Linked DNA regions of Homo sapiens: region 2 is linked to region 1. Evidence: fine-mapped expression QTL. A gene starts in region 1. The other region holds a variant in brackets. All regions are shown on one strand. Distances are between the middles of the regions.

Region 1 (16,466 bases):
TCATCTCCCAAAGAGGGAGCAAAAAGCCTTTTGTCTTGGAGCCTCTGAAAGCAGCAGAGTAACCTGCTTACTCCTGCATTGCTTAGCTAATCTCCAGGCAGTCTTTCCACTTTGAGAACTGGCTCTCTTGCCTCCCTGGCCCTCTCCCACATCTTTATTTACCATTTTGAACCCAGGTCCGACTGATCCTCGGCTTAACTGCTTTATCTCTTTCACTTTGACCACAGACTGCAACTGCTGAGGAAGGGGAGTTCACACAACACAATCTTTGAGTAGCTTTTGCTACAGCACCAAATATGTTCAGTACAGCACATTTTTCGTCCTAAAATCATCAGTTCCAAACACCCACCCGCCCTTCCTAATATTACCACCCCATGTCCCTGACTGTAAACGCATAAAGAATCACTTGTTGGTAGAGTTTAATGCTTAGCAAAATAACTCATCGTTTTCAGGTCCTTAAATACTGCATATATACACAAACATACACGATGCTTCCTGGAAAAGATTAAACAACACAAGCAGAGTGCATTTTATTGATACTATTTTAGCAATATTAGTCTTTTCCATTGTGAATGGGAAGCTGGGTGCAATTTCAATATCGTTATCTCCAAATATTAATTAAATACATAAAATACCCAGGAACACACAACAAGGAAATGATGCAAAGAAAGAAGTGTCGCACAGAAACTCCTTTGTTTATTTTACCCACGAGGAATCAGCTAGTGGTAAAACCGAACATGTCTCAAGGTAGACAACCCATTAGCCATGACCCAGGAGGATTTGCATTTTAAGTAGTTTGGTTCAGAATACAGCCAGCACTGCTGAGATGCTATTTGGCTGCCATATAGACGTGCATTTCCCCTATTCACCATGAGAGCATGATTGGCATTGCAAAAAGAAGTCATAATTCTTAACTATGACATCACCTAAAGCAACTTTCATTGTAAAATCAAAATTTCACTTGATATTTTTTGCCTTGTTATGAATGTGGTTTTCAACAGCTATTTTGGTTCAGTTGAGTCATTTCTTGTTACTAAACCACCACCCCACCCACCTCAAAACAAAGAAACCCAAAAGCAACCAAACTAAAAACCAAACGCAGAAAAAAAAAAATCCTTATAATCCGAATTCAGTACAAAAACAAGAACCAGGAATCTCAACACATCTGAAAATGCATAAGGAGCTGCCCTCCTCCTGGTGATTGCTACTTTAAGTAGCAAGGGGGGGAAAAGGCACTAGTAAGAGCCAGGAAGTTCCCAAATGCAGCTCTTGTGAAACAGAGGAAGCCACAAGCAGCTGGAGGGGCAGGCAAGAGAGAGAAAGAGTCCAGTTGGTCCACCAAGGAGAGAGGAAAAGAGGTACTGAAAGGGCAAGAGACCATGGAAATGTGGAGAAAGGAAGAAAAAGAACTCGGAGAAGGGAGCTACAAAGAGGGTAAAGGGAGCACTGAATGTATGCGAATAAAGCCTCACACTCCGGTGGTACCACTGAAACATGCACATTTAAACATCAAGGGAAAAACGCAAAAAAGAAAAGAAAAAGCCCACAAAGTACCAGCTGGGTACCAAGAGCCTTCTCTGTGGCTGCTGGGAGCTGTCCGTCTTCCTCTCGGTGCCCTGAAAGACCCTTGGCTCTCACGACCAGCCAGGACTGAACAAACCTAGCCCGACCAAAAACAAATCCTGCATCCACCGGAGTGCAGCGCCTGGCACTCCGCGACTGGGAGGAGAGAAGCGGCCTGAGGGGGGCAGAACACTGATGGGCTTCAGGGCGGTGGGCCGAGGTGGCTCCCCGAGAGCTCCCTCGGGAAACCCCGCTGGCCCGCCTAAGGCTCGGATGGAGGTGGAAGAGGTTCGCGGAGAGACCCGGCCATTGCCGCCCGGGTGCGCTACCTCGGGCGGGCGGCGAGGAGGCTGGAGGGGCTGCTAGCGCGTACCGCAATGTTTTGCCGCATCCCTGTTCCCGGAGCCGGCCGCTCAGCCCCCTCCGCGTCAGGGGCCCAAGCAGCAGCCTGGCGGTCCGTGTAGCGGAGGCGGGGTACCGCGCGGGATGTCGCGGGGGCCTTCAGTCCCGCCGCTCACACATTTCTCCGCGCGCTCCCGTCCCACAAGGGGCAGCTGCCGGAGTTTCAGTGGACCTCTCTAGACCCAGGCGTGCGGTGGGTGAGGAGGAAGAGAGGCCAGATCAGGCCGCCTCGAAGACGTTGGCACTAGGGAGTCACTGACCTGCTTGCCACGGGCAGAGTGACCCTGTGGTTTTGTGGCTGCGAGCGGCGGCCCAGGCTCCCCCTTGCCTGTTCTCCCTCCCTGGCCAGCTACAAAAATCCTGCTCTCACCATGCCAGAAATCAGCTCAACATTTAGGCCCCTTGCAAAGTCGCGCTGGCAGCGCTCGCCTGGCTTTGCAGAGCTTTTAGAGTTACCCACCGGCTCTTCCTCTGGTATTCCTAGTCTTGCCGAGCGCTAGCAATCTCCGACCAACCCGCGGGCCACTGCCCCGAGCCTCAGATCCACGTCTGCGGAAAGTGGCTGCGAGTGGGGTGCAAAAATAAAGCCCAACCCAGCCCAGCGGCCCGACAGCCGGAGCCACCCGAGACCTGTACAACTTGCCCCGCCGCCCTGGCCGCTTGGGGTATGGTGGGGGGGGGGGCGGGCAGCGATGCCAAGGACACCCGGATCCTTTCCGGTCCTCAGCGGCATGAGACCGCGTCGTAGGCAGGCAAGTGGGAGGTGGAGGGCAGGATTAGCCACCTCGGCCACTTTGGCCACTCAACCGGCCCCAAACCAACAGGACCCAAACTAAAAATAATAAGCTACCTGCCCCCTCGGCTCGCGTGCGCGCGCGCGAGATCTCTCTCTCTCTCTCTGTCTCTCTCTCACACACACACACGCACGCACACGCGCTACTGAGCTGAGCGGGGAAGAGGCAGCACGCGTGTCGGTGCAGCTTGTGCAGCCCCCGCTGAAAATTCACCCACCTCTAGAGCCCAGCGTCTGGTGCAGGGCCCGCGGCGCCGTGACCTGCGCTGCTGTTTCCACGATGGTATCTATGTGATTCCGGACAGAGCTCCTCCGCGCCCGCTCGCCCGTCAAACCCACGGAGCAGCCCCAGCAGGCGAGCAGGCGGGCCGGCGGGCAGGCGGGCAGCGGCGCGCGCGCGCACCCGAGCAGACACCGCGCGCGCACCCAGCGCCTAGCACACGGGCTGCACCTTTACATACACGCGCTGAATCCCCGCCCCCGCTCTCCACCACCCCCCCCCACCCCGCACACAAGCAGTCCTTCCTCCCGACACTCGACCACTTTGACCCCCTCACATTCCTGAGCTCCTACCCCCGTCCCCCATCCAGACATGCCCATTTGATTCCTCTTCTACCCACACACCCAGAAAGACAGCGCGCTTTCCTCCCGGCATCCGCCCCCTCTTTTTGCCTAAAACATTCCCTAGGGAGGAGCGACCCCTTTCCTCAGGCGTGGAGACCCCAGTCCTCTAACAAGGGCGCACTCGCCTCCATCCCCCCCACCACATACACACACACTCGAGCCCTTTTCTTCTCTTCCAGTCCCCTAATAACGAAGGAACACACACACACACACACACACACACACACACACACACACACACACACGGGGCATTCCTTTGAGAGAGCAACCAAGAAGCCAGGAAAAGCCAAAGAAACACTGGAGAGCCTGGGGGAGGGGGGCCGAGGGAGATCGATAGGGTCGTCGAGTCTACGCGGAATTGAATAATTACAGGATGGAGGGGAATGAGTCAACAACAATGACATTCAAATGCAACAATCATACTTGGATTTTGTATCACGGGTACGGTACCTTTGGCTAATTGTCACCCCGCAGAACGGAGGGCTCCTGGAATACTTCTCCGTGGCGGTCGATCCTGGAAGGAGCCTTCTTGGGAACCAATTTCCTAGGATCCAGTAGTATTCGCACTCCCCCTACCTGTCTGCGCGTAAGGGGCCAGGGGCTTTAAGGCGAAAGTGTGAGGCTTTAGCCTAAAGTGAGACTATTTAGCCGGGTTAGAAGGAGACGGGTTAATTATCCGCACCTTAGAACTCCGTGGGCCTTTGGTGCAGAATGGGTTAAGCCGGATGATCTTGGAGCTGGGGGTGGGGATAGGGGATAGGGGATAGGGGTTGAGGAAAGAGAGGCGTGGGACTGGGAGAGATGCCGCACTTGCGACCAAAAGAAAAAAAAAAAAAAAAACTACTTTGGCTACTGAGCATGCCCAGTTCCCAGCTCAAGCCCTATAAGGGAGGCATTGTGTGCATTCCACTTCTCCGGGCTTTGGTGGTGACCGGGAGGGGAGTTTGACTGGGGAAGGGGGTGGTAGTTGGGAGACATTAGGGAAAGGGGGTTGGAGAACAAGGTTTGAAGCTTTGGGACTGCTCAGGAGGGACTGTGAAGAGAGAAAGGGAAGGGACCCACGGAGTACCTTCGGGAGACGGGGAGAAGGAGAGGAAATGGACTAAGAAAAGTCACTTCAGTCGCCCCTCATTGTGTATACCAAAGAGGCTTTAGCAGCTGAATCTGAAATATCCAGTGGCTGCAAATCCAACGTGTGGATTGTCTAGGCCCCTTCTTCTACCCTTTTTGTTAGTGCTTCCACAAGAGATAAGAAATATTCTGAGGAAGGGCCAATGTTCAAACCAGTTTCATGCAAATTGATAATTTCGTTAATAAGCTTGTTAAGAAAATAAATAAACCTGGGGGAGGGGAGCAGAGAGGAGTTGGCTATCATGTATGTATTTCAGATACCTGGCTTTCCTAAACAAAAGGCATAAACATTGGATGTGCTCCCATCCCCCAACCTTGCTGTTTTTTGTAGGAGCTTGGCTAAGAAAAACAACTCTCTCTCTCTTCGTGTCTGTGGGAATAAACTAGCTTTAGGTAAGTAGAGCTAAGTTATAAATGGGAAGTATTTCCCTAGGACTCTTGGTAGCCTATTATTTGCCACATTCAGGTAATACTGCCAGGCCCATTTCTTCAGGACCAGTGTGTTGCCCAATTTACTTATTCAAATCCCAGCGGCTCTAGCCACAATAGAGCACAACCGGTATCCAGAAATGTTCTTGCTTAAAAATGAAAAAAAAAATCTTTAAGCTAAAACTAGCAACAGCTTTGAAACCAGAATTTGGCTGTCTGCCTGAACTCCTACAGTTAAACATTTACCATAATTGGTTGATGTTTAAAGGCCCCAAATCTAGGTAGAAACATCTGATGGGCAAAGGATTTATTACATTATTTGTGAATAATGGTCTACCTTCTGTATCATCTATAGTAGTCATTCATATACATGTTTCATTGTTTTTCATTTTTTGTCATTTTATGGGACTTCCGTCAGGTTATATTCACACAAATGTTCACCGGGCACAACATGTATACAGAGATGCACGTACAATATGTAAATGAATACTTAAATAGATATGCGTGTATGGGCATATTTCTTTATGACCTTGCTAAATATTGTGTCGTTCATGAAGAACTCTTTCTCTACCTTCACTCCACATTGCCTTGAAAACTGTAATCATCCTCTCTTTTACAAACAACCTAGAGACAGAAATTGGGCAGCATTGGTAAAATTTATCTTATTCAATGTGAAATCCATTATGAAATAGCATTAAGGAAACACTAAAATATTTGTCTATAACAGCGTATGTAATTGTGCAGCTCCTTTTAGCAAAGTGAATGATGTTTCCTTCATAGGTAACAGCTGCAGAATGTTGAAAAATCCCTCTACTCTTGCACACTTGGACAAAACAGATCCTGCTAATTAATAACTCACATTTGCATTTTATTGTGTAATGCAGTTTGAAAGTAGTAATGGGTATCAAAACAAGTTGGCATTTATTCTAAATGCTAACAATTCAGGAAGCTGAATATATTTTATCCAGATAGGTGAAATGTTTGTCTTTTACTACAAATGTTAACAAGAGTCAATAGAATGAGCAAAAAAAGTTTACCTGAAAATTCTAAGTAATGTGATAACTGAAAAGGCCAGATTTGGACAGTAAATATCAGATGATTTAAATGCCTATCTTTATTCAACTTTAGAAACTGTTCTGAGACTTGGCTATATTTAACTGCAATAACTGTGAAATGTTATTTTTCATATGGATATGGAGACAAATCTGAAAGCCACTGTAGCTAGATCATCGATAAATTACAATTCATAATATTCCTAAGAACTTATCTGTGATTAATATTCAACTTTTTTAAATGAATGCTTTAAAATAAAATGTTTTGCTACTTAAAAAGATAAAGTGGACACTCATAAAATAAAACAGAAGTAACAACTTCCATGTTTTATGCTTATTTTGCTTTCAAAGTAATTAACCCAATCCTTTAGTCCCACAGTCCCTTTTCCGTCCCCTAGAACTACAGGTGACATCCCAATAGAACAGTAGGAAATGACACAGAATTGCTAGCTTAACAAAGGAAGTGAATATATACATAAATAAAAGTGTTAAGAAAACTCCAGCACTATTTATGGCCATTGAAAGAAAAACAAAATTGATGTTCTTCCTAAAATGTAAGCATGCAAATATTGTGAGTTTTGCAATACTCTCACGGTCTTCCTCCAAATGTTTTACCTTATTTCATCTTGACTTTTTAGGAGTACAACCAGAATCGTAGGTCTACACTGATATACTGTGTCTCCCTCCATCAGGGAAAAAAACAACTGCACTAAGAATTTCAACAAGATCCTGTATACCCTCCGTTCCGAAGGCAGTTTGGAATTAAGTCATTAAAACACTACCAACCGAAAGTGATTATAATGCCAAGTCTTGGCCCTAGTCAGCGGTCTTTCACTTTCACTGTATTCCTCATTTATCTTGCCTTGTCTTAGGCTGCTGCTCAAAATCAAATCAGCCTTAATTTTCGTATCCAGGTATCACAGATGATTCAGTGTATTTTAATATTGAAGATTTATTTATATTCTGGCATTTTAACAGTTACAAACTTGCTATTTCTCTTTCATTTTTATTTATTTATTTTTGAGACAGAGTCTCACTCTGTCACCCAGGCTGGAGTGCGTTAGTGTGATCTCGGCTCACTGCAACCTCTGCCTCCTGGGTTCAAGCAATTCTCCTCCCTCAGCCACCTGAGTGGCTGGGATTACAGGCATGTGCCACCATGCCCGGTTAATTTTTGTATTTTTAGTAGAGATGGAGTTTCACCATGTTGTCCAGGCTGTTCTCAATCTTCTGACCTCAGGTGATCCGCCCATCTCGGCCTCCTAAAGTTCTGGGATTACAGGCGTGTGCCACCGTGTCCGGTCACACACTTGCTATTTCTCTAAGTGGAATACAAGAAAGTTCTTAGGATGTTAATATATCTTCTGGGAAGAAATGTTTCCATGATCAAATAAGTTTAAAAGACCCTTGGTTCCGTAAAGCTAAACATTTTATTTTTACTTTGGGATTTTTCAACACAATTAATTATGTTTAAATGAGCTTTTATTTACCAAGGGAAAAGGGATATGGCATGTGGCATTTCACAGACTTACTTAACAATGGAACCCTTTTTTCTATCTATATAATTTGAAAAACATACTAATAGCCCATTTTTACAAATTTTCTGGAATTTAGAACATGAAAGGAAGTTTTCAGATCATAATTAACCCATTCAATAGTAGCTACTGTCTGTTGAGTGCCTCTTCTTTGCTGTGCTGCCTACAAATATTATTTCATTTAGTTCTATGAACAAGGAAGGGATTATCATACTTATTTTAAAAATGAGGTTAAGTGACCAGGCATGGTGGCCCATTCCTGTAATCCCAGCACTTTGGGAGGCTGAGGTGGGGAGATCACTTGAGCCCAGGATTTCAAAACCAGCCTGGGCAACATGGGAAAAATCGTCTCTACAACAAATACAAAAATCAGTGGTGCATGGTGGCACATGCTTGTAGCCCCAGCTGCTTGGAAGGCTGAGGCGGGAGGATCACTTGAGCCCAGGAGGTCAAGGCTGCCATCAGCTGTGGCCATGCCACTGCGCTGCAGCCCAGCCAACAGACTGAGACTCTCTCAAAATAAAATAAAATAAAATAAAATAAAATAAAATAAAATAAAATTCAGGGAAGGTAAACAGTTTGCCCGAGGTCACATGGTGAGTAAGTGATGGTCAAGATTTGACCCCAGATCTTTGAGGTTTTTCCAGTACACCACATTTTCGTTTTCACAGGGGGATTAGGGAATTTTTAACTTTGAAAGCAGAATAGACTTGAAAGCTGGGCAGGGTGACTTAACGCCTGTATTCTCAGCACATTGGGATGCCAAGACAAACAGTCTGGGCAGCAAGGTGAAAAGCCATCTCTTTAAAAAATAAATTTAAAAAAATAGCCAGGCATCGTGGGGTGCACCTGTAGTCCCAGGTACTAGGGAGGCTGAGGTGGGAGGATCGCTCAAGCTTAGGAGGTCAAGGCTGCAGTGAGCCATCATCAAGCCACTGCACTCTAGCCTGAGCGACAGAGTGACCCTGTCTCAAAAAAAGAGAAAGGGATAGATTTGAAAGCAGAATAAATTTTCCAAAGATGAATACTTGAGACATAAATGTTTTCAAGTATTAAAGTATGAATACTCAGCACAGGAATAAACAAATAAATGACATTAAAAACAGTTCACATCAATTATGCATGACAAGGTCTCTTGAATCAACTGATTTTACCTTTTGCCAGTAGTAGCCTTGTTCTATCCATTCTGCTCTTTCAACTCTCATACCTGAGTTGATTCTGAATCTGTGATGATGTCTCAAATGTTCCTTATTAGGGATAATCACTTTCACTATCACCAAATGAAGCCATGTGTATTAGTCAGTGTTCTCTAGAGGGACAGAACTAATATATATACACACACACACACACACACACACACACACACATATATATATACACACACTTATATATTTTATATATACATATATATATATATATATATATATATATATATATATATATATATGGGAGTTTATTAAGTAGTATTAACTCACATGATCGCAAGGTCCCCCATTAGGCTGTCTGCAAGCTGAGGAGCAAGGAATCCAGTCTGAGTCGCAAGGCTAAAGAACTTGGAGTCTGATGTTCAAGGGCAGGAAGCATCCAGCATGGGAGGAAGATGTAGGCTGGGAGGCTAAGCCAGTCTCACCTTTTTACATTTTCCTGCCTACTTTACATTCCCTGGCAGCTGATTAGATGGTGCCCACCCACATTAAGGGTGGGTCTGCCTTTCCCAGCCCCCTGACTCAAATGTTAATCTCCTTTGGCAACACCCTCACAGACACATCCAGGATCGATACTTTGCATCCTTTAATCCAATCAAGTTGACGCTCATTATTAACCACCACACCAAGCAAAGCAGTAGTGTTCATCCCTAGACTTATTCCAGTTAAGACAAAAGGATTGTTATAAAATAGGATACCAAATGAATTGGAAAATGTGAGACTAGTTGATTATTTGATTAGGTTATATCAATTAACCTGACCTTCCATTTTGCTCAGACTTCTTTATAGTACAGCTGGTAACCTGGTGTCCTTTTCAGAAACTCAGGCATCAGGTGTGAATGTATTACAGTCTGTGTAGCAAGGCATTGGCTAATTTTTCAAATAACACTTCACTCAGAAATTATTATTTCTAGAATAATAATAAAGAGGGGTATGTTGTTTTGCAGGGTCTTTGTAACTTTGGCCCCTAATGGGTACTTGTCCCTATGGCTAACTAGAACTACCTATGTGGTTTAGAATATTGCTAAGCCAGGGATGCTGACAAAATAGTGTCTCTTTTCTATATATTCTCTAACTTGGAGAAATCTCACTGTCAAAGATTAGGGCCCAGCCACAAGCTCAACAGCCCTCAGACAACTCAAAGATAATAAAGATCATAAAATAAAAAATAGGAAGTTAATAGCTAAACAGTCTAGTGTGAGAATTACTCTTATGGGCTGTAAAAGTTCCATAACACCAACTGAAGCTTTATCAGAGAGATAGTAAGTTGATAAAAATCTTTCTGTTTTTATCGTGTTCCACTCTATCTCGGGAACCACAGTGTTGTCCCTAGCTAGCAAAACATTATTGTTTTGCAAAAGCATTGAGGGTCTTTTTTTCAATGCTTTTATAACAATATTACTTTTCCTTAGAAATATAAACTTAAATCTTTCTTTCAAAAGTGATCTTAACTGGAGTGAGATAATATCGAAAAATAACTTGAAAGAATGGATGAGACTCACTACTTGATAGCACAACAGGGTGGCTATAGTCAATAATAACTTAATTGTACATTTAAATAATTTAAAGAGTAATTGGATTGTTTGTAACTCAAAGGACAAATGCTTGAGGGGATACATATCCCATTCTCCATGATGCGCTTATTTCACATTGCATGCCTGTATCAAAACATCTCATGTACCCCATAAATATATATACCTACTATGTACCCACAAAAATTAAAAATAAAAAAAATAAAAAGTTGATCTTGTTCTCAGCTCCTCCTCCTTTGTTTTAGAGGCTCTTGAACAATTCAAAAGTTGGGTCAAAACCGGAGGCATAAAACAAGGCAGAAAAGGCATAATATAAAAATATGAGTTATGGTATGACTGTATTGCAATTGCTATATTAAAATAAAGTTTATCCCTTTCCAAGCCTCAAAGAGTGAGTCAGAGGAAAGCAGAACATCTGTGTAAGCTAGTGTCATGCATCTGTGATTGACTACCTTCTTTTTCAGTTTGAATTTGGAGCTGCTAATTCCCAACTCTGACTCAAATTGAGTAATGTCTACCCACGTAAGGTTGCCGTGAGTAAACAGTCCTCAGGTCCCATGTAAAGGGATCAGGGTATAGGAAAAATTGTCATCACAGAGAATTTCTTCTCTTTCAGGTGCACAGTTTGGTTATCAATTAGAAACAGGGTTTGAAGGAACCTCAAAGTTCTTCTAGTTTAAGCACTCACAAAACTGATATCTTATCAAATGAACACTCAGTGCTTGAATACACCCAGTCATGGGGAGCTCACTGAGGGTAAGCTCTCCAGTGAATTATTCAGAAAATTAATTACAGAATTTTTGAAATTGTTGCTGTTTTGTAAATATTCAGGAAACATAAAATTAGATCTATCAGGGTTTCAGGAGTGTGAAATTTGGAACCAGATGAACTTGGTGTTAATTTCTTGCTTCACTATTTAATAGTTCTGTGAGTTAGGGCAGTTAACTTCTCTGCGCTTTCATTGCCTTTTCTGTAAAGTGGGCAGGACAAACTCAATAGTCCTGAGTTTATGAGGATTAACAAGTATAATGTTTGACAAACACCTAGCACTGTGTCTTTCTGGCAGAATATTTTTATTTCCTTCTGTTTATAAACAGAAAAGACTTCCACATATACAAAAAAACAAATAATTCAGACCATGTATTATTTCCCTTCTCGAGTCTAAGGATGGCGAGTAGAAGAGAGTGGTTGGATTAATTCAGTGTATCTTTTGTTTATTTCAAAAGCTAGAACTATTATTTAAAAATAAATCCACCTGTTCTTACCCCACCTGGTATCCTTTACTTACTTTTCTATTCTCATTTCACATATTATTAGTTTTTTTAAAAGTTAATTTTAACAACAATCTCTGTAGAATTGAGGATTGCAGACTCCATTACTATTTTTTAAAATAATCGTACGTGCCTTGCTTGCCAGACTAACCTAGAATCTCATCCTCTACATGTCAGACCCACGAAAAGTGGGTATTATCATTATTGCAACAAAGTTCCTCATAATGGCCCTGGAAAGAATGTTAAAAATATATTTTTCTGAATCTTATCACTGGTTTTTTTTTAGGGAAGCAAACAGGAAAAGAGAAAGGAAAGGAAAAAAATGAACCAACGTGTATATAGCTTTATTGTTTGTAATATATGTGCAAAAAAAGTTCAAGTGAGTTGGGGGCACTAATTTTATCATTTTGCCAGTGGAAATGTATATTTTTAGAAACTTAATGACTTAAAGAACTAGTATTCTTTTTTTCTATTTATTTATTTTATTATTATTATACTTTAAGTTCTAGGGTACATGTGCACAACGTGCAGGTTTGTTACATATGTATCCATGTGCCATGTTGGTGTGCTGCACCCATTAACTCGTCATTTAGCATTAGGTATATCTCTTAATGCTATCCCTCCCCACTCCCCCCACCCCACAACAGTCCCCAGAGTGTGATGTTCCTCTTCCCGTGTCCATGTGTTCTCATTGAAGAACTAGTATTGTTCTATCTAAGATTATTTTGTCATAAGAGTAGCATATGCTGTTTTTAGAGAAAAGCAAGTCAGATCTGACAAGGTGTGATGCAATTATACCTAAGATCACATTCGTGTGATAAATTATGTGTAAATTAATTCAATCTCAATCATCTAATAACTATTCAGACAGATATAGTGCCTATTGTATCCATTGTTAATTGACTTTTCTTACAATATTCATTGTTGGAAATGTTGACATCTAACTTACATCATCTCGATTCTATTTATACCTTCTCTAGTAAAACAATTCTAAGGTTAAAAAAAAATATTCTAAGGATGGCCTCTAGACAACTTTTTTTTTTCCCCATATAGTTCAAGTTTTTGGGCATTTTACTTCCATTTATAGCTGAAGCTATTCTATGAAATTTCATTTTTATTATCTTTATGGATGAAGAAATATCCAGAAAGCCAAACTACAGGATTCAGCCACTCAGGGCAATGAAAAAAAATCACAAATGGACCATATAATGATTATTCCTTTCATTTCTTTGCCTGTGTTTTGAGATGTGAGTTTCCTGAGCCTTGAAAGGAGAGGAATTTTGTTGACAGTCATCCAGATTTTCTCCTTGAGAATCTGTCCTCTGTGACATATGGCAGGCTATCCCTGTGAGGGGACCATGGTTCTGGGACTCTTATCTTCCATTCCTACCCCTCCTTGTATACTTTAAGAGGATATCTGGACAAAGGTCAAAGAAACGCCATTTTCCAATATAAAATTTAGTGAGTGGCCAGAGTTGTGCTGATCTTTTCTCCAATTATGTCTTGCGAACAGAAAGATTTACATGATAGTTTGACGGTCTCAAAGTTACTACCAAAATTTAAACACGAAATTAAATATATTGACAAATTCTCTTTGGTTTAAAAGCATTTGTAAAAAGTTGTCAGATTTTGTAAAAGAGAAATTTCCGAGGTAAGGGTGTCTTACTGTAAAACAAGTTGAGTTTGGTAAGCAGTGGAAACTCTGTAAGGAGATAGTTTCATACAGTATTTTTGTAGTAACAAAGGACGGTCAAGGACTGATGGTTAACTGGATTGTGGCTCAAAAAGTGAATAGTGAATGTGTTTGGGTCTCTTTTTCAGCTCATTATTAAATATTATATAAGGTATCTCCAATTCATTTGAGATTCTGATTTTATCATTTATTAAGACTAGTGGCAAGAACAGACCAGCCTACAGGGGAAAATGGATAAAGGAGAAACAAATGGCATTTCAGCATACTCGTGCACACAATATCTAAATTACACATAACTCTCAAGCAGGTTTTTGTTCTTAGTCAACTCATTAACCACTTCAAGTAATTACCTTTTTTTAAAAAACGAAGCATATTGTCCTCTTTATCACTGATTGAAAATTCTGAATTAAACACATTTGTACTCAGAGCTTTTCTGGGAAAGGGCAAATTTAATCCTGAGACTTCCTAGTCTTCCTAGTGAGCCATATCACATTGTGAACCACATAGACATAAGCTCTCCAGAATTGAAACAAACCAGTACCACTCGCCCTTGCCATCCCCATCCTAATGGTTGATTTGATAGCTGCACATTGGAAGAATCAAAATGTACACCTAAAACAAATGAGCATGTTTTATTCTGTCCTAGTAATAGAAAATTATCTTTCCTTTTGTTCTCCAAGAACTCCAAGAATTTCAAGAACATATGGAGTTTTAGTAGAGGTGACTGACTACAAATAATCTGCTCAACCATAAAGTACAGTTTATTAAATCTTTATTGAATGCCTATAATTCATCAGACTTTGGGTGCCAAGGTGAAGGAAACTGCCTCTGTCCTCCAAGATCACTTAGTTTAGTGATAAAGCAGATGAGACTATGTTATACTAAACAATACTATATCATGTATTGTGTTATAATAAACAATACTATATAATGTATTGATTGAACATGTCCTTTAACTACTGACCGCTCATTCTCAAACTTTACTAAATTTCTCGGTTTTATAAAATGTTGTGAAATACTATAGTTAAAGGCAATAATGGTAAGCTTCCATGGCACATATTCAAGGAAATTAAGAAAATCAGAACACTGCCTTCCATCACATGGCAAGGTCAACAACTTGTATGTCCTTCTGGAGATGACACAGTCCAAATTTTTGATATTCCTCCAGAATATAGAGTCAAAATTTACCATGTGCCAGGCATATTTGGAAAGTACATTAACAGGAAATGTTCTATAAAATAAGAAATGGAATCATTTGGAAGGGCCAGAAATTGAAGTAGTTCACATATGCAAAAGAAATAAAATGGAAGAAGATACCAAAACAATAAGGGTCTTCTCAAATTTGATTTGCAAATCATGAAAAAGGAAGAGATCCTCATGTTGTTTTCAGGGGTGTGAACATTACAGTCCTCTCTTGGTATCTGTGGGGAGTTGGTTTCAGAACCCCCAGGATACCAAAATTCGAAGATGCTCAATTCCCTTACATAAAATGGCATAGTACTTGTATATAACCTATGCCCATTCTCCTGTATATTTTAAATTATCTCTAGATTACTTGTAATATCTAATACAATGTAAATGCTATGTAAATAGTTGTTATACTGTATTATTTTTATTGTTCTATTGTTATTTTTATGAAGATCTTTTGAAATTCATATTTTAAGCTCTGGGGTACATGTGCAGGTTTGTTACATAGGTATACGTGTGCCATGGTGGTTTGCTGCACGTATCAACCCATCACCTAAGTGTTAAGCCCAGCATGCATTAGCTATTTTTCCTGATGCGTTCCATACCCCACCCCCCAACATGCTCCAATGTGTGTTGTTCCCCTCCCTGTGTCCATGTGTTCTCATTGTTCAGCTCCCACTTACAAGTAAGAACACGTGGTGTTTGGTTTTCTGTTCCTGCATTAGTTTTCTGAGGATAATAGCTTCCAGCTCCATCCATGTCCCTGCAAAAGACATGATCTCGTTTGTTTTTATGGCTGCATAGTATTCCATGGTGTATATGGACCACATTTTCTTCATCCAGTCTATCACTGGTGGGTATTTGGGTTGGTTCCATGATTTTGCTGTTGTGAATAGTGCTTCAGTGAACATATGCGTGCATATATCTTTATAATAGAATGATTTATATTCCTTTGGGTATATACCCAGTAATGGGATTACTGGATCGAATGATATTTCTGGTTCTAGGTCTTTGAGGAATCTCCACACTGTCTTCCACAATGCTTGAACTAATTTACATTCCCACCAACAGGGTAAAAGTGTTCCTATTTCTCCACAACCTTGCCAGCATCTGTTGTTTATTGACTTTTTAATAATTGCCATTCTGACTGGCGTGAGATGCAATCTCATTGTGTCCACAGTTGGTTGAATGCACTGATACTGAGCGCCAGCTGTATACAGTGTATATAGTGTTAGGGACTTGGCTTCCCGAGTGGAACTGAGAGCCAAATACAATAAAAACTGTCTTCTCTACTTTATACATACATATATGTATGTATGTATCTAGTGATTGAGAAATAACAAGCAGGAAACTGCAACTGGTTCTCAGGAAACAAGAGCAGCTGGCAATAGTATCTTAAATATAAGCAGGTCTAGTTTTACATTATTACTTTTTATTTTTAACCAGTATACACAGATGTGCCTCAATATTTAAATGGGCCAATTGATAAATACTTCAAGAAAGAGAGAAATCCTACTAAAATTATTTTAACAAGGCTAAAATGTGGATTTCTTTATATTTTGATTGTTTTAATAGGTCAAAACAGACTTTAAATATACTTCTTATAGCCATTTAGCCTTGGGACTTCTACCTGAGCCTGACAGTGATGTCTACTAATTGTTATTTATGGATGTCAAGAGATTTTACCCTTTTTAAAAAATTTTCTGTTTTTTTTTTTCTAACATAGTACTTAACTCGTGATTTTCCTCATCCCAGCACCGATAAACAGTTCTTATGGGATTGTTGCACTGGAGTTTGAGCAAAGATTACATTAGAAATTTAGTAGTCAAGATTTGTCATTACTCTTCTCAGTTTCATAGCTTTACTATATAAACAAACTCCTCCCACCTCCTCTTGTACTCTCTTCCATAAACAAAGAAAGATAGATGAAAGCCAAAAAAATAGCCATTCCAAAATATTTGGTGTTTAGCATCTTATACTGAAATTCCCTTTTGCTATTCAATCTACTTGAAGTTTAATTTTTCTTTAAATAAATTATTTGGGAAGAA
Region 2 (16,466 bases), 61 kb before region 1:
AAGGAACTGCATGAGGAAGTTCAAATAGAAAGATCCATCCACATTAAGGAAGCAGGAGTGCATATAAATGGGTAAAACACAGCTGTTTCCTGACTCTGTGCCTCATTTTTGCAAAATCTTTACTATGAGTTTTTTTTTTTTTTTTTTTTTCCCTGACTGTTCTCTGTGATTCCAACTAAACGTTTGGCAGTGTTTCAAACATTGTCAGTTTGGGGCACCATAACTAAAGTAGCACTGTCTTTCAATCACATCATTAGAGGGAATCTGAAAAGTTTTAGTCATCCCAGCAAATGTGTAGAACCCTGGGTTCAAAGCCCCAGCCTTGAAATGCAGCTATTTGAGTTAGAAGGTTACTTTTTTATGTGTTTTCTCCTTGCCCTGGTGCTAAGAAAACTAAAATACACAGTTTCTCCTAATCTGTGGAAGCTGTTAAATAAATGTCTCAAAGCTTTCTAGCATTTCACTATGCTAGCATGGAGGTGTGAAAAGAAGTTGTGTTTGTAATCCAGTTATGGCACCTGCTAACTGCAACACTGCCCATGTTACTTAAGCCTCCTGAGCCTCAGTTTTCTCATCTGTAAGATGTAGAAATAGTGTGAATGGCATCATTCCTGAGGAATGCTTAAGGAAGTCTGACTCATAGTAAGACCTCATATATGGTAGTGGTAGTAGTCGTTGTTGTTGTTGCTATACTTACGGTTTGCACTTCCTTTCTGCCAACTCATTCATTCTCCCCGCTGTGCCTGCCCCTTCACTGAAAAAGTTTCCTCCAAAGTCATCAACATCATCCTTGATGCTAAAGCTAATGGATACTTCACAGTTCATATTCAACTGGGCCTCTTGACGCCACGGCCCATTTTTTCCTTCTAAAGCACATTCTCTTGGCTCTGTACTAACATCTAATAAGTCCTAAGTATGTGTCCGGTGCTATTCTAAGTACATTACGTTAAGTATCGTATGTACCTGTGTAATCAATACTGTTCTTAGCCCCATTTTACAGCTAGGAGAAAGAGGCTCAGATAATTTAATTATTTTTACCATAGGTCACAGAGCTAGTGAGTGATAAGCTGAGTCAAGGTTACGCTTCAAGTTACTGTCCTGGACCTTCCTTCTTCTGGTCCACAAGATTACACTTAGCCTATGTAGTCACAGTTCATTCTTTTTTTTTTTTTTTTGACAAAGTCTTGCTCTGTAGCCCAGACGGGAGTGCAGTGGTGTGATCTCAGCTCACTGCAACTTCCACCTCCTGGATTCAAGTGATTCTCCTGCCTCAGCCTCCAGAGTAGCTGGGATTACAGGCACATGTCACTGCACCCAGCTCATTTTTTGTATTTTTAGTAGAGATGGGGTTTCACCATGTCGGCCAGGCAGGTGTTGACCTCCCAGCCTCATGTAATATGCCCACCTCGGCCTCCCAAAGTGTTGGGATTACAGGCGTGAGCCACCACACCAGGCCATAGTTCATTCTTCAGTGCTTATAGCGTGCCAAGTACTATGTGAAGCACTATATGTGTGTGTGTTATATGTGTATATGGACAGATGGATAGATTCCTTAAGAGAGAAGACAGATCCTTAATTGCAGTAATAGCTTTATTAGATAGATATTATGATTCTATCATCACTTATATTTACACAAAGAAAAGGAGGCTCAGAGAGATTAAGTAAATTTTTCAAGGTTACCTCGTTCGTAAATGACAGAACCATGACTTGAGCCCAAGCCTTTTTAATTTAAAAGTATTTGCTCTTGATTATTACATTTTACTACAGTGCAGTTCCTAGATAGTGCCCTCTCCAACTTCACGTAAGATTCAAATAAACTAGAACCAAATGGAACTCAGCTATAAAATTTACTGAAATATTTACATTTGTATTCAGGTGTATCTTTGCAAGAGTGGAAATGGGCAAACAGACCTGATAGCCTCAAATGCTGACTCGGAAATAATCAGGCCATCCCAAAACCCCTTCAAAATTATCAGGCTGTTAGAAGCCAAGTGGAAATGCTAAGGCCTCAATTTGTAAGAGGCAGGACCAGGCAGAAAACTGGGGTTTTAGCTTGTGCTACAAATAAACTCTGGCCTCAGTCTTCTGCAAATCAGGATGCCCAATCATTCACCCTCTTCAGAAAAGATGAAGAGTGGCCCCTCCACACCCCCAATGTGGCCTCGGTTGTACCAACAAACCACCTGTATCTACTAAGGCAGAAAATAGAACCATTCGAGGTAACTTGATTGTCACTACCATAAGAAGTCATGAGTACCATTTGATGACTTAGCATTTCTCTATGTGTGATTCTTCTAAAGACTAAATAATTCACGCTAAATTATAATTACTAGAAGGATATTTTAAGCCTAAAGTTAGAATTAATACAATTAATGTGTAAAACCACCTTGAAGTGTGAAAAGCAAATATTTTGATTATCCAAGTAATTTATAAAGCTCTTAGATAGCTTACTTAACAGTCCTTAAATTAATAGTGATTTCTGAATGAAAGTGAAATATTATGGATAATTTTTACACTAAAATGAAATATTATAAAATATAATTAAGAGGCTTATCAGCAGTCTCACATTTTGGGGATGGAATGCAAAGCTACAAATTGAGAAGCTTATTAAACTGGATGAGTGATTACTGTATCTGTTTCTGAATTATGAAATATTTATACTCCTGATGTCACAGACCATACAATATTTATGCTATGTGTGAAGTAAAATCTGTATTCAATATTTGGGCAATGTGACGGGGAAAGAACCTATTCCCTAAATTGATTCTAAAATTATCTTTAATTTAAAGCATTATCTCAGAATTACACATAAAGCTCTAAATTCAAAAGAAAGAAATATTTTTTTACTTGAATTGCCAAAGAATGTGATTCACGTCTCTAGTCACTTTGCCAATAGAGATAGCTAGTTTTATTAAACTTCTCTCCACCTGAATGATGATTTTGCTATAGACGCTTGCTCTCCCCTACCCCTACATGACTATTTTTAGAAAGAAATCCTTTTGTTTTTAAACATCGAAATACAAATGAATATTTTATCATCAATGTCAGATTTAGAGGTCTTCCATCAGAGACCAAATTAAAAAGTAGTGAAAATGCTTCTGTCTATAACCACCTTTAATTTGTTCTCTTTTAATTAATTAATTTATTTATTTATTTATTTTAGTGTCTTTTTTTATTATAGTTTAAGTTTTAGGGTACATTTGCACAACATGCAGGTTTGTTACATATGTATACATGTGCCATGTTGGTGTGCTGCACACATCAACTCATGATTTAACATTAGGTATATCTCCTAATACTATCCCTCCCCCTTCTCCCCACCCCACAACAGGCCCTGGTGTGTGATTTTCCCCTTCCTGTGTCCATGTGTTCTCATTGTTCAATTCCCACCTATGAGTGAGAACATGCAGTGTTTGGTTTTTTGTCCTTGCGATAGTTTGCTGAGAATGATGGTTTCCAGCTTCATCCATGTCCCTACAAAGGACATGAACTCATCTTTTTTTATGGCTGCATAGTATTCCATGGTGTATATGTGCCACATTTTCTTAATCCAGTCTATCATTGTTGGACATTTGGGTTGCTTCCAAGTCTTTGCTATTGTGAATAGTGCCACAATAAACATACGTGTGCATGTGTCTTTATAGCAGCATGTTTTATATTCCTTTGGGTATATACCCAGTAATGGGATGGCTGGGTCAAATGGTATTTCTAGTTCTAGATCCCTGAGGAATCACCACACTGACTTCCACGATGGTTGAACTAGTTTACAGTCCCACCAACAGTGTAAAAGTGTTCCTATTTCTCCACATCCTCTCCAGCACCTGTTGTTTCCTGACTTTTTAATGATCGCCATTCTAACTGGTGTGAGATGGTATCTCATTGTGGTTTTGATTTGCATTTCTCTGATGGCCAGTGATGATGAGCATTTTTTCATGTGTTTTTTGGCTGCATAAATGTCTTCTTTGGAGAAGTGTCTGTTCATATCCTTTGCCCACTTTTTGATGGGGTTGTTTGTTTTTTTCTTGTAAATTTGTTTGAGTTCTTTGTAGATTCTGGATATTAGCCCTTTGTCAGATGAGTAGGTTGCAAAAATTTTCTCCCATTCTGTAGGTTGCATGTTCACTCTGATGGTAGTTTCTTTTGCTGTGCAGAAGCTCTTTAGTTTAATTAGATCCCATTTGTCAATTTTGGCTTCTGTTGCCAATGCTTTTGGTGTTTTAGACATGAAGTCCTTGCCCATGCCTATGTCCTGAATGGTATTGCCTAGGTTTTCTTCTAGGGTTTTTATGGTTTTAGGTCGAACATTTAAGTCTTTAATCCATCTTGAATTAATTTTTGTGTAAGGTGTAAGGAAGGGATCCAGTTTCAGCTTTCTACATATGGCTAGCCAGTTTTCCCAGCACCATTTATTAAATAAGGAATTGTTTCCCCATTTCTTGTTTTTTTCAGGTTTGTCAAAGATCAGATAGTTGTACATATGTGGCATTATTTCTGAGGGCTCTGTTCTGTTCCATTGGTCTATATCTCTGTTTTGGTACCAGTACCATGCTGTTTTGGTTACTGTAGCCTTGTAGTATAGTTTGAAGTCAGGTAGCGTGATGCCTCCAGCTTTGTTCTTTTGGCTTAGGATTGACTGGGCAATGCAGGCTCTTTTTTGGCTCCATATGAATTTGTTCTCTTTTAAATATACAGGTGAAAAATCATATAAAGTCTTAAGGCAGCGAGGTCTCAAACTGTATCAAGTATATAAGAATCATCTGCAGATTCTCCAGCCGACCCTTCTAGATGCTGAATCAGTGATTAGGTATAAATTGGAACGAGGGAATCTGCATTCTTACAACACCTTAAAATATTTCTGATGTAAGTCATCCCCAAATTTCACTTTGATATAATTCCTCTGACATGCAGGCATTATATTTTAGTATAACCTATAGGTCATGTTGTATAAGAGGAGTTTGAGTACTAGAGCAGACAGACTGAGTTTGACCATAGATTCTGCCATTTGCCAGCTGTGTGGCTTTGGGCAAATGACTTCACCAATATGATCCTAGTGCCTCATCTATTAACAGAGGATATAAATTATTGCCATGTACCTCCCAGAGTTCTTAGGAGGATAAAATAAGAGAGGCGGCCAGGTGCCATGGCTCACGCCTGTAATCCCAACACTTTGGGAGGCCAAGGTGGGCAGATCACTTGAGGTCAGGAGTTCAAGACTAGCCTGGGAAACATGGTGAAACCCCATCTCTACTAAAAATACAAAACTTAGCTGGGCATGGTGGTGCACGCCTGTAATCCCAGCTATTCAGGAGACTGAGGCAGAAGAATCGCTTGAGTCCTGGAGGTGGAGGTTGCAGTGAGCCAAGATCCCACCACTGAACTCCAGTCTGGGTGACAGAGCAAGACTCTGTCTCAAAACACACACACACACACACACACACACACACACATACACACACACACAAAACATGGTAGTGGCCATGCGTGGCAGAGTTGATATGTGTTAACATCTTTTCACTTTCCCCTTGAGCACACAGCTAGGCTGCCTTTCCTAGCCTCCCCACTGCAATTAGAAAGGCCACATAGTTGTGTTCTGGCCAGTGAAATGGGATGTGTTTTAGTTCCTGCCAGACTTTCCTTGCTACTGACTCTCTTCCCTGTTTGCCATCTCAATGTCAATTCCCAGAGCAGTCTTGGGAGCCATGTGTGGAACGTGGTCAGACTTGCACCCAAATGATGCTTGGAGCTGAGCCCCCTCTCTGCCTACCTGCATCGGACGGAAGCATGAGCAAAATGCTAATCTTTATTGGGTTAACACACTGAGATTTGGGATTTATTTGTGACTGTAGTTAGTCTACTACTCCGTGAGCCATAAAGTCCTATACAGACATAAGAGATCAACACCTGGGGCAGTGCAAAAGCAGAACTGATAGGTCAGGCTGGCTTTTTAAGAATAGGCTTTGGATCTGAGAGAGGTCTTCTGCTCATACATACCTCTTCCCTCTATGTTCACTTGTACCACTGGGCCATTTGTTGGCAGTGCATCATAGAGCCAACATAGGAGTTAGAATGGGAGACCAAAGACTTTGTTAGCAATGAAAAGTAGGAACTAGATATGAGGGCATTGATGCATAGATGGAGGGTGGCAGACTAGGATAGCACAGAGGCCTGAGGTTGCTAAAGAGCTGGATTCAGAAGACAGGCAAGCAGGCGGAATTCAAGGAACACATGGATAATGTCAAGAAAAGAAATGAGGCACTTTGTCCCAAGGCAACAAACGTGCAAAAGCAAGTGGTCAGTATGAGCCAGGAGACTGGAAAAGATGGGTTCTGTATTAGTCAGGGTTCTTTAGAGGGACAGGACTAATAAGATAGATGGCTATATGAAAGGGAGTTTATTAAGGAATATTGACTCACGCGATCGTAAGGTGAAGTCCCACAATAGGTAGTCTGCAAGCTGAGGAGCAAGGAAGCCAGTCTGAGTTCCAAACCTCAAAAGTAGGGAAGCCGACAGTGCAGCATTCAGTCTGTGGCCAAAGGCCCGAGAGCCCCTGGCAAACCACTGGTATAGGTCCAAGAGTCCAAAAGTTGAAGAACTTGGAAGTCCAATGTTCGAGGGCAGGAAGCATCCAGCACAGGAGAAAGATGGAGGCCAGAAGACGTAGCTAGTCTAGTCTTTCCACGTATTGTTGCTTTTATCCTAGCCATGTTGGCAACTGATTAGAAGGTGCCCACCCAGATTGAGGGTGGGTCCACCTCTAGCAGTTCACTGACTCAAATGTTAATCTCCTTTGGCACCACCCTCACAGACACACCCAGGAACAATACTTTGCATCCTTTAATACAATCAAGTTGACACTTAATAATAACCATCACAGGTTCAAAGTCCAAGAACACTGTTCTTTGCTCCCATCTGAAATTCGAACCATTTTTCAGGACTTTATTCAAATGCTACCTTTTTAAATAAAACCCCCAACTAAATTAGGAGGTTTGAATCTGGAGTCCATGTGCCTGGGGGATGTAAGAATAAATTTCCAAAGAGTTCTTGAACTCTTTACACTTAAATGCAAAATCATGTGCCCATATTTTTAGGGATAGAATCTTTTCTTTTCATCAGCTTTTTAACGGGAGTCAATGAATAAAAACGTTTCAAAATATCTTCATTGGTTTTGTGAAGAAAGGCAAGTGTTTCTTCTTATCCATCACTTTACCCCTGCTTAGCACAATGCAGTTCAGTAAATGATCACTGAAAGAATATATGTGTCTTCCTCTGAGTCTCCAAGTTGAAATTTCTCTCTTGGTCATTGTGATTCTCAAATCACTTGGTTTAGAAACGTACAAAACGTTCTTCATAGTTGTTATACTAATTTACATTACCACCTACAGTGTCCAAGAGTTCCCTTTTCTCCACATACTTGCTAGCATTTATTATTGCCTGTTTTATGGATATAAGCCATATCCAAGACATTTGGGGTGAAATGATATCTCATTGTAGTTTATATTTGCATTTCTCTGATGCTAATGTTGAGCACATTTTCATATGTCTGTTTGCCATTTGTATGACTTCTTTTGAGAAATATCTATTCAAATATTTTGTCCATCTTTTGATCAGATTATTAGATTTTTTTCTATAGTGCTGTTTAATCTCCTTATATATTCTCGTTATTAATTCCTTGTCAGAAGGGTAGTTGCCAATATTTTCTTCCATTCTGTGGGTTGTCTCTTCACTTTGTTGATTGTAACTTTTGTGCAGAAGCTTTTTAACTTGACGTGATCCCATTTGTCCATATTTGCTTTGGTCCTTCCCACTCTTCCCTCCCTTTTCCAAAGGCAGAGGAGCCACCCCTGGCCACAAGGAGTACTGCCAGACTACCACTGATTTTCCCTTAAGTCTCAAGGTCTCTTAAGTCAGCTTGTGGTGAGTGCTGTCTGTCCTGGGACTCATCCTTCAGGGCAGTGCACTCCCCTCTGTCACAGGGCAGGTCCAGAAATGTCATTCAAGAGTAAACAGTCTTGACTTGCTGCTCTACACCCCTGTGGTGATGTTGGTACTTGAAGCCAGCAAGTCTCAGAGGCTCACCAAAACCCTTGATGTAGCATAGCACCTGGATATTACTGCTGGTTATTCAGAGCCCATGCTAGCAGGACTGGATCCCTTTCTTCAAATAGGTTCTCTTCTGGCCCAGGGTATATCTATAAATATCATCTGGCTGATAGGGCCTGGAATGGGAGCCTCTTGACTCTGACTG[G/T]TGCCATATCCTGCTGTGGCTAAGCTGGTATTTCAGGTGCAAGAAACGATCCTCCCCACTCTTCTCTCTACTCTCCTCAAGAGGAAGAAAAGGGTCTTTTTTGGAGCTGTGAGCTGTGCAGCCTGGGATTAGGGGAGGGGTGATGCCAGCACATTTTGCCTGCCAAAGCTGGTGTCACAGTATGTCATGTGGCCTTCTAATCCATTATCTCTAGGCCTAGTTAAGCCCTTGAACTCACCTAAGAGTTGCAGTGCTTATGGGCTAGAATGCCTTTCAAGTTTAGTTAGAGACTAAGAGCACTTTGGCCCTGGGTGGCAAGGTTTGCAGGCACTCAAGTTTGAACCACTGGGATTGGAAATTCCCCTCTGGCTAAGGCTGATTTGAATGCTCCCTCTGTGGGCAGGCATCAGCTGAGTTTGGTCTGGTTTTTCTTTTCTGCTCTAACAGAGCAGCACTGAGTTCAATGCTTCACAATTGCTGTGTTCTCCCTCCCCCAGTGCCCAGAGATACTCTCTGTACCAGGATTCCACTGCCAGAGATTGAGGAGGGGTGGCATCAGCAATTCAAGGCTGTTTTTTCTACCTTTTTGGTGCCTCTTTCAGTGATATGAAGCTAAAACCAGGTACTGAGTGCTCACCTTATTTTTGGTTCTTATAAAGGTGTGTTTTCTGAGTAGATAGCTGTTAATCTGATGTCCTTGCTGGGGGAACTATCAGTGAAGCTTTCTATTCCACCATATTCCTCTACCTCCCTTGAATTGGCTTCTTTATGATCATATAGATTGTAAGTTGAGTCAAATTCTTATCTGATTTTAAAAACTTTTATCATGTTCATATTATATTATATTACATTTGGCAGTATTATGTTATAATATGGTGCTGTAGTGTTGTGGGAATCAGAAGACCAGAGAGACCAATGGGTGGAACAGGAGGATTTTATTTAGGTGGCTACTGGCACAGCAGATTCACATCCAAAGGCTGAGCCCTGAACAAACACAGGGCTTGACTTTTATATACACTTCTGAAAGGGAATTGGCTAGTTTTAATGCAGTGGCAGGAAACTGAGGGCACAAAACCTGTGAGGCGGGCAGGCAGGCTTACAGAAGCAGAACAAAGGCAGTTAATCAAACTGTGACAGGTTTTGTAACCTAAGCATAGCTTGTGACCTTACAGCTGCATGGAAGGGAAAACAGGAACTTACAAAACTTGAGACACTGAGTAATGGTAAGGGGGAAGAGGAGATAGTAAAGGAATTTGTTTTTCTTATCCTTGCTCCAGGGAGGGGGAGGGGTTTGTTGGGAGAGTCTCCGGAGCTCATTCCTTTGGGCTCTGGCTTTCCAGATAGTGTTATTGAGACTTTGCCAGGGCCCTGCCTATTGCTGGCCTTGGAGTGAGTCAGCCAAGTATAGGAAAACTTGTTTTTCTCTTTTTAACTTCTGCTTCAATAGCTGTCCCTCAAGATTGTTGGATTGAACTGACTTGAACGGAACTGAATTGAATTTTCAGCATGGGCTGAATCATGGAATCAGCATGGGCTACCAGGCAGTCAGAAACCTTTGCTCAGGTCCAACCATCTCATGTTACAGGTGGGAAAATGGAAACATACAGTGGAGAGTGACTTGCCCAAATTCAGACAGCCAATAAATGGTTAAGCTGAGTTTCTTGCCTCCTGGATAAGTGTTCTTTCTTCCATTATGTTCTGTTCCCCTTTTATTTCCTTGGTTCATGCTGTACTGGAGTGAGATCAATGGGTCAACAAATACAGCTAAATCTCTATAAAAAATTATGCATGTCTTTACAGCATAATTTAGCTCATAACATTTTAAGATACATTTTGACAGCTGGTAATGATTATGGTTATTGATTAGACAATGCATTTTTATGCATCTAATTTTCTACATTTTTAATTTCAAATATTCTTTTAAAAACAGAAGTAGAAATGTGCCAGATCTTATGATAAGTGTAGGCTACTTAATTTGAAGCAATTGCAGTCCCTCATTAGTAATAAATTAAGTATTGAAGAGAGCAGATCACTTTAATGTGTCAAAAAGAGCCTTGTCACTTGACATAATTTGAGAAGTCAACATGTGCATTTTATAATGATCGTCCATATCCAGTATTTCTGATCTAGCTTACTCTCAGTTTCTATTACTCATGGGACTTACCCAAGACACTTGTTGAGTTACAAACAGAGCCAAATATAAAGAACAAAACAGTATCATAACTTGAATCTAAGAATAGTTGGAATGATATTTAGAACTGATCCACATCATGGAACGAAGTGTACCACCAGAAGAAGCTGCATTTGGTTGTGACTGTTTCTGTTACTCCAACATGTCTCTTCAAACCAGACAATTAAAAAATCAATTGTTTTTGTACTGATTTTTACCAAAGCAGTTTCAGTGAAAAACAAATTTTTAAAAATCCTCAACCCTCAAAATACTAATTAAAAGTATCAGTTTAGTTGATTTTTCTTTTGAACATTTTTGACCTAAATGCTTATAAACAGTATCATTTTGTATCTTTTAGTAACTATGGGCAACTGTTGAGTGAGTTCAGTCAATGATTAAATTAGTCATAAAAAATGAGTTTTGATAACGAGAAACAAAAAAGATGGTGAATGGTGAATTTAAGATTAAACCAATATTGACTTGATATAAATACAACAAATCAAGTCTCTCACATCATAAAAGTGTTTGGCTTTCTGTGAGAAATTTACCAAATGCTTTTTTATGATATTTTTACCAAATTTAGAAAAACAGGGAGCGCCAAGCAATTATTTAGCAGAAAGGCTAATAGACATAAATATCATAACAGCATCTTGTAAATGATGAAACTATATCATCAAAAGGAAAAGACAGAAATGCAATATGAGTACAAATATTTATAGGCACAATCTGCCCATTTGACAAGTACTGACTGAGTACCTACTACTCTGAGCAAACCACCAGGACCAGTGGTACACAGGTTGGAAACCTGACTATGGCAGGAGGCACACAGTCCTGCCCTCCAGGAGCTTTCAGTCTGTAGTGGGGAGAGCAGTACAGCACTAGCTGGAATAAAAGGTGTTAAGAGAAAGGAGGGAAAACACAGAATGAGGTCAGGGAAGGGAGAGAACACAATTTCAGCAGAGGAGGTATTTGAAATTGCATAGTGAGTATCTAGAGCTGACACTCCAGTTGAAAAGACTGCCAGTCTCCTGGGCACACTACTCATTCTAATGTAGTGTGATCAGGTTGTGCCAGTGGTGTAAATGGAATAGAAGAAGATCTGGGAAGATGCTTAAAGACAGTCATATGTGAGCTGGACTTAAAAACTAATAAAATATAGTGCTAGAGAAGTAAGTAGGTGCCTAATCATTTAAGGTCTTAAACACCATTTTAAGATATTTGAATTTTGTCCTGTGAGCAATGGAGAACCATCAAAGGGTAGTTAGCAGAGGAGAGACTGGTCGTATTTGCATTTGAGAAAGAGCACCCTGGCTGGAATGTAGAAAATAGATTGGAGGGAAGGGGAACAGGCAAGAAGGCAGGAAAATTTATTGAACTAGTTTTTAAGTAGAAGATTATTATGAGAGCCTAAGAAGGTCGTGGTGAGACTGGAGAAAGTGGAATCTATTTGCCAGTAGAAGTGAAATGGAAATGATAAATCTTAGAGATATACTAGGTAGAACTGATTGGACAGGGTAAGTGACTGGATTTGAAGGTATAGGGAAAAAGGAGATAAAATTACCCACTCTGGTTTTAACTTGGCTGGCCACATAATGAGTAATAGCATTGTATTAACGTGTATAACACAGAAGGACTGCATTTCAGTGTGAGTGGTGGCAAGGGGAGGAAACCGGGAAGAAGAAAGTGAGAAACTGATCTAACTCTATGAGAGCAAGAAATACCTTATTTTTTCTTATTGCAGCTTCAGCGCCTAGCTCAACAAATACTAAAATGGTTTAACGAGAAAAATGAATTGTTTTCAAAGTGCCGTCGAAGGTATTTGAATCTATGAACAGAGCTGTAGACTGAAAAGAAAGTCCGTTTCATGCATTGACCTAGTACTTAGTGAGCATCTCCTATATGCCAGGGAGAATTCTAGGTATTGAGGATATATCAGTAAGCAAAACAGTGGCAATCCTATCTCCATAAACTTATATTCTAGTTAGGCGGGAAAGACAATAAACAAATAAACATGTAATATTTCAGTTGATGATAAATGCTACGAAGAATATAAAGCAGCATAATAGGGTTAGAAAGTGACAGGATGCTTTTAATATAAAGTCATCAGCGAAGGTCTCTCTGAGAAGGTGATATTTGAATTAAGACCTGAAAGAAAGGGAGTGGGACATGTGACTATTTGTGGGAACAATATTCCAGGTAGAGAAAATAGCAAAAATAACAATATCGTAAGGTAGTAGCATGCCTAATACCTTCAAGTTCAACGAATAACAAGGAGGTGAGTGTGACTTGAAGAAAGAGAGCAAGAGAAGGAGGTATAGAAGATGAGGTCAGAGAAACAAAGGACTGGATTAGGTAAATCTTTAAAAGCTGGTATAAAGACTTTGTTTTCTTTCTCTGAATGAGGGCGGTTCCCTTGGATGGTTTGGAACAGAGGAGTGACATAGTCTGACTTACTTTTTAACAGAATCACTTTGCTATATAGAGAGTAGTTTGTAGAAAGGCAAGAGTAGAAGCCAGTTAGCAGACTAGTTACACTAGTTAGAAGCCAGTTAGAAGACTCTGGAAGTCATCCAAGCAAGAGGTCATGATTGCACCAAGGTGGAAGCAATGGAGATGGTACGGTGAGAAGTGGCCAGATTAGATTCTGCTGTAGTTTTCTTGTTATTTTGATTTGATTTTTATTTCTTAAAGGTAGAAACTGACAGGAATTACTGAAGTATTGGTATGTGGTGTGGAATAAAAAGGGAGGCAAAGCTGACTCCCAAGCATTTGGCTTGAACAACTGAACAAAAATAAAGGAGCAGCCATTTGCTAAAATGGAGAAGAATGTAGATGGAGCGAGTTTTTGAGTAAAGTATTAGCAGTTTGGTATGGACATACTACATTTGAAATGCCTATTAGTGCATATGTGTAGTTGGCAGTTAAATATATGAATTTGTATTTCTGGTAAGAAGTCCAGAGAGGAGATAAAAATCTGGAAGTCTTCAGCATATAGATGATATTTATAGCCATGTGACTGGGTAAGATCACCCAGGAAATGAGTATAAATAGAGAAGAAAATAGATCCAGGACTAATCTTAGGAATTTCAATGTTTAGTGGTCTGGAAGATGGGGAAGGTGTAAGCAAAAGATACAGAACGAGAGAGACCAGTAAGGTAAGAAAAGAAAAAAGAATGAGTGGTGTCCTAGAACCACGTGAATCAGTATTTTACAAAGAAGAGAGTGATCAACTTTTCAAATGCTCCAGACAGGTCGGATGAGAGGAGGACCGAAGATCAAGCTTTATATTGGCAACTAGGTAGTAACTTGTGACCTTGACAACAGCTGTTCAGTGGTGTGGCGTGCTTCAGATGAAAACATGATCATGGTGGGTTCTAGAGAAAATGGAAAGAAAGAAAATGGAGATGGTAAGTGGAGACAAGTATTTCTGAGTATTGATATCCAGGAGAGTACTGATGTACCTAGAAATGTATCTACCTGGTCAGAAAGGGAGTGGGGTGCAGATCGCATAGAGTCTTGCAGGCCTTTGTGTTTTACTCTTAGAGATATAAGGAATCATAATTCTGGAACAGAATGCTGAGAAACTCCCATATTTAGAGGCCTGGAAAAGATGACAGAGAGTGAGTAAGATGCTTTTAATGAGGTAGAAAGAAAAATAAGAAAACATGCAAGCAGAAGCCAGGACAGGAGAGAAGCGAATGGTCAGCGATGTCAAATGGTGCTTTGAATTCAAGCAGGATGAAGATAGGCTTGGCAAAATGTATGCTGTGATTTTCCTTATGAGAGCTGTTTCAGATGTTTCAATGTGATGGAAGGGAAAGATGTGATATTGTAGTGGGGTGAGGAGAGTTGAGAAGATCCAAGAGTAATAGTAACCAGACACATTGATCTAGGACATATACTAAAGAGGAAACTCGTGTGTGTGTGTGTGTGTGTGTCTGTGTGTGTGTGTGTGTACTGAACATAAAATGATAATAGTTCCTTTAAAAAATCACTAGCAGGGAGTGACATTTTAAACATTTAAATATTGGGCTTAAGGGAACTGAGAATGCTGATAAAAGAAGATTTGAATAAATTACCAATATAATTCTAACTTGTATAAAGGTACAAAATTGTATAAAGGATTAAAACGTAGAATAGTGACTGAGTTTGAAAAGTAAGTGCAATTCAGACCTTAATGTCTTCGGAGCTAAAATTAGTGCTTAATTACAATAATTATATCTTTCCCTTTTCCTGGTACAATTATCTTCCCCATCTCTCTTTGGTTTTTGAGGCCTTCTTGATATTTAAGCCACTCTATCAATGTATTTTTACTGTGAGCTTCCTCACAGTCAGTCTGTGGGAAATAGGCAACTACAAATAATATTTAAATGCACCTTAAGAGCTAGTATTGATGCAGAAATATTGTAGAGGAAATTACCCTAACTTGTGTCTCTACCTTATAAGAATGATTCTTGGGGTGTTTTATAGAGGAGCGTTTGATAAGGGTGAAGCTGGCCAGGAGGTAAAAAACTGAGAATTTTAACAGTGTCCTTCAACTGAGACAGACTGATGCCCTACGAGCTAGCCTGTCAAGGGTAAGAAAATCTCTGTGGGCAGTGATCAAAGCAGCCATATACCGGGCTGCTGAATAAATATGAACTATTCTTCTCTTGGGTTTTCTCTCTACATTTTCCCCTAAATTTCTTACAGACTCCTTCCCTTCTATCAACATGTTTCTCTTTGACTGAGGTTTGACTACAATACATGAGCAATTACAATGACCCAGGTATTTGGTAAAGCTAAAACAATAGCTTGTCAACAACAGGAGTCAAACTCTGTAAAATATTTGAAGAGATTTATCCTAGGCCAAATATGAGTGACCATGGCCTGTGACACAGCCCACAGGAGGTCCCAAGAATATCTGCTCAAAGGAATTGGGGTGCAGCTTGGTTTTACACATTTTAGGGAGGCATGAAACATCATTCCCTAAAGTGATTCTGAGACATCAATCAAATACATTTGAAAAATACATGGGTTTGGTCCAGAAAGGTGGGACAATTCGAGCGGAGTGGTGGGGAGGGGGTTCCAGGCAATAGGTAAATTTAAACATTTTCTGGTTTATAAATGGTTGAGTTTGTCTGGAATTAATGGAAAGGAAATGTTCAGGTTAAGATAAAAGATTGTGGAGACCAAGGTTCTTTTGAAGTCTCATAGTGGTTGCCCTTAGAGACAATAGATGACAAATGTTTTTTCTATTCAGACCTTTAAAAGGTGCTAAACTCTCAATTAATGTCTTCAGGATTGGGAGAGCCTGGAAGAAAAAGATCTAGCTATATCAATAGAGAATTTTTACAGATGCAAATTTTCCCCCACAATGGATGGTCTTGCAGGCCCATTTCAAAACACGGCAAAGAAACATGTTTTGGGTAAAATATTTTGATTTTCTTCTTTGTCAAATAATGTTATGCCAGAGTCAGATTGGAAAGTAAGTCATGATATATAGGGTTAAATAAAACCCATCTGATGATAGTTAATCATTGGTAGGGTATGACTCCCCAGACCCCTTAGATAGGAATTTGGGCAAGATAAAAAAGATAGAAATAAAAAAAAAGAATCAGAGCTTAGTCCTCAGCTTATGTTGAGTGGAATGCTCACTCAAAGTACTTTAATACTATTTAATATTCAGAGAAAACCTCTTTGGCAGTGTGAAAGGAAAATAAATCTGGGACCCCAAACTCACTAAGCCAAAGGGAAGATTCAAGCTGGAATCTGGGTCATGCAAACCTGCCTCCCATTTTTGTTCCTAAATAAGATGGCTACAAAGATGAAAGGCGACATACCTCCCTTATATTTTTTCCCACAGGGAAATTTGTTGTGGGCCCCAACATCTTTACCCTAAAGTGTGTTTCTGTTAAAGTTTACCATGGCAATGTAAACTTTAACAGAATGATAGCTTATCTTCACAGCTGTTGAGAAACAGGACAGAACTCAAAGTTATGACTCTGCCTACCTGAGACAAATACATATCTGATTGTTTCCTTTGCCGTATTGTCTACATTATCTTATGTG

Evidence for each region. PIP is the estimated chance that this variant, and not a neighbour inherited with it, causes the effect.
Region 2: its variant is the best candidate, but not a certain one, in a credible set for the expression of SLITRK4 in skeletal muscle (GTEx, PIP 0.56).

The regions. Positions count from the first base shown.
Region 1 is chrX:143,631,903-143,648,368 of GRCh38, forward strand. SLITRK4 (SLIT and NTRK like family member 4) reads right to left here and starts at 4,199. Exons shown (of 2, transcript NM_001184749.3): 1 at 3,833-4,199.
Region 2 is chrX:143,571,030-143,587,495 of GRCh38, forward strand. No RefSeq gene overlaps it. Among named protein-coding and RNA genes, the nearest start is that of SLITRK4, 57 kb to the right of the region's middle. The variant G/T (reference allele first, on the strand shown) is at 8,246.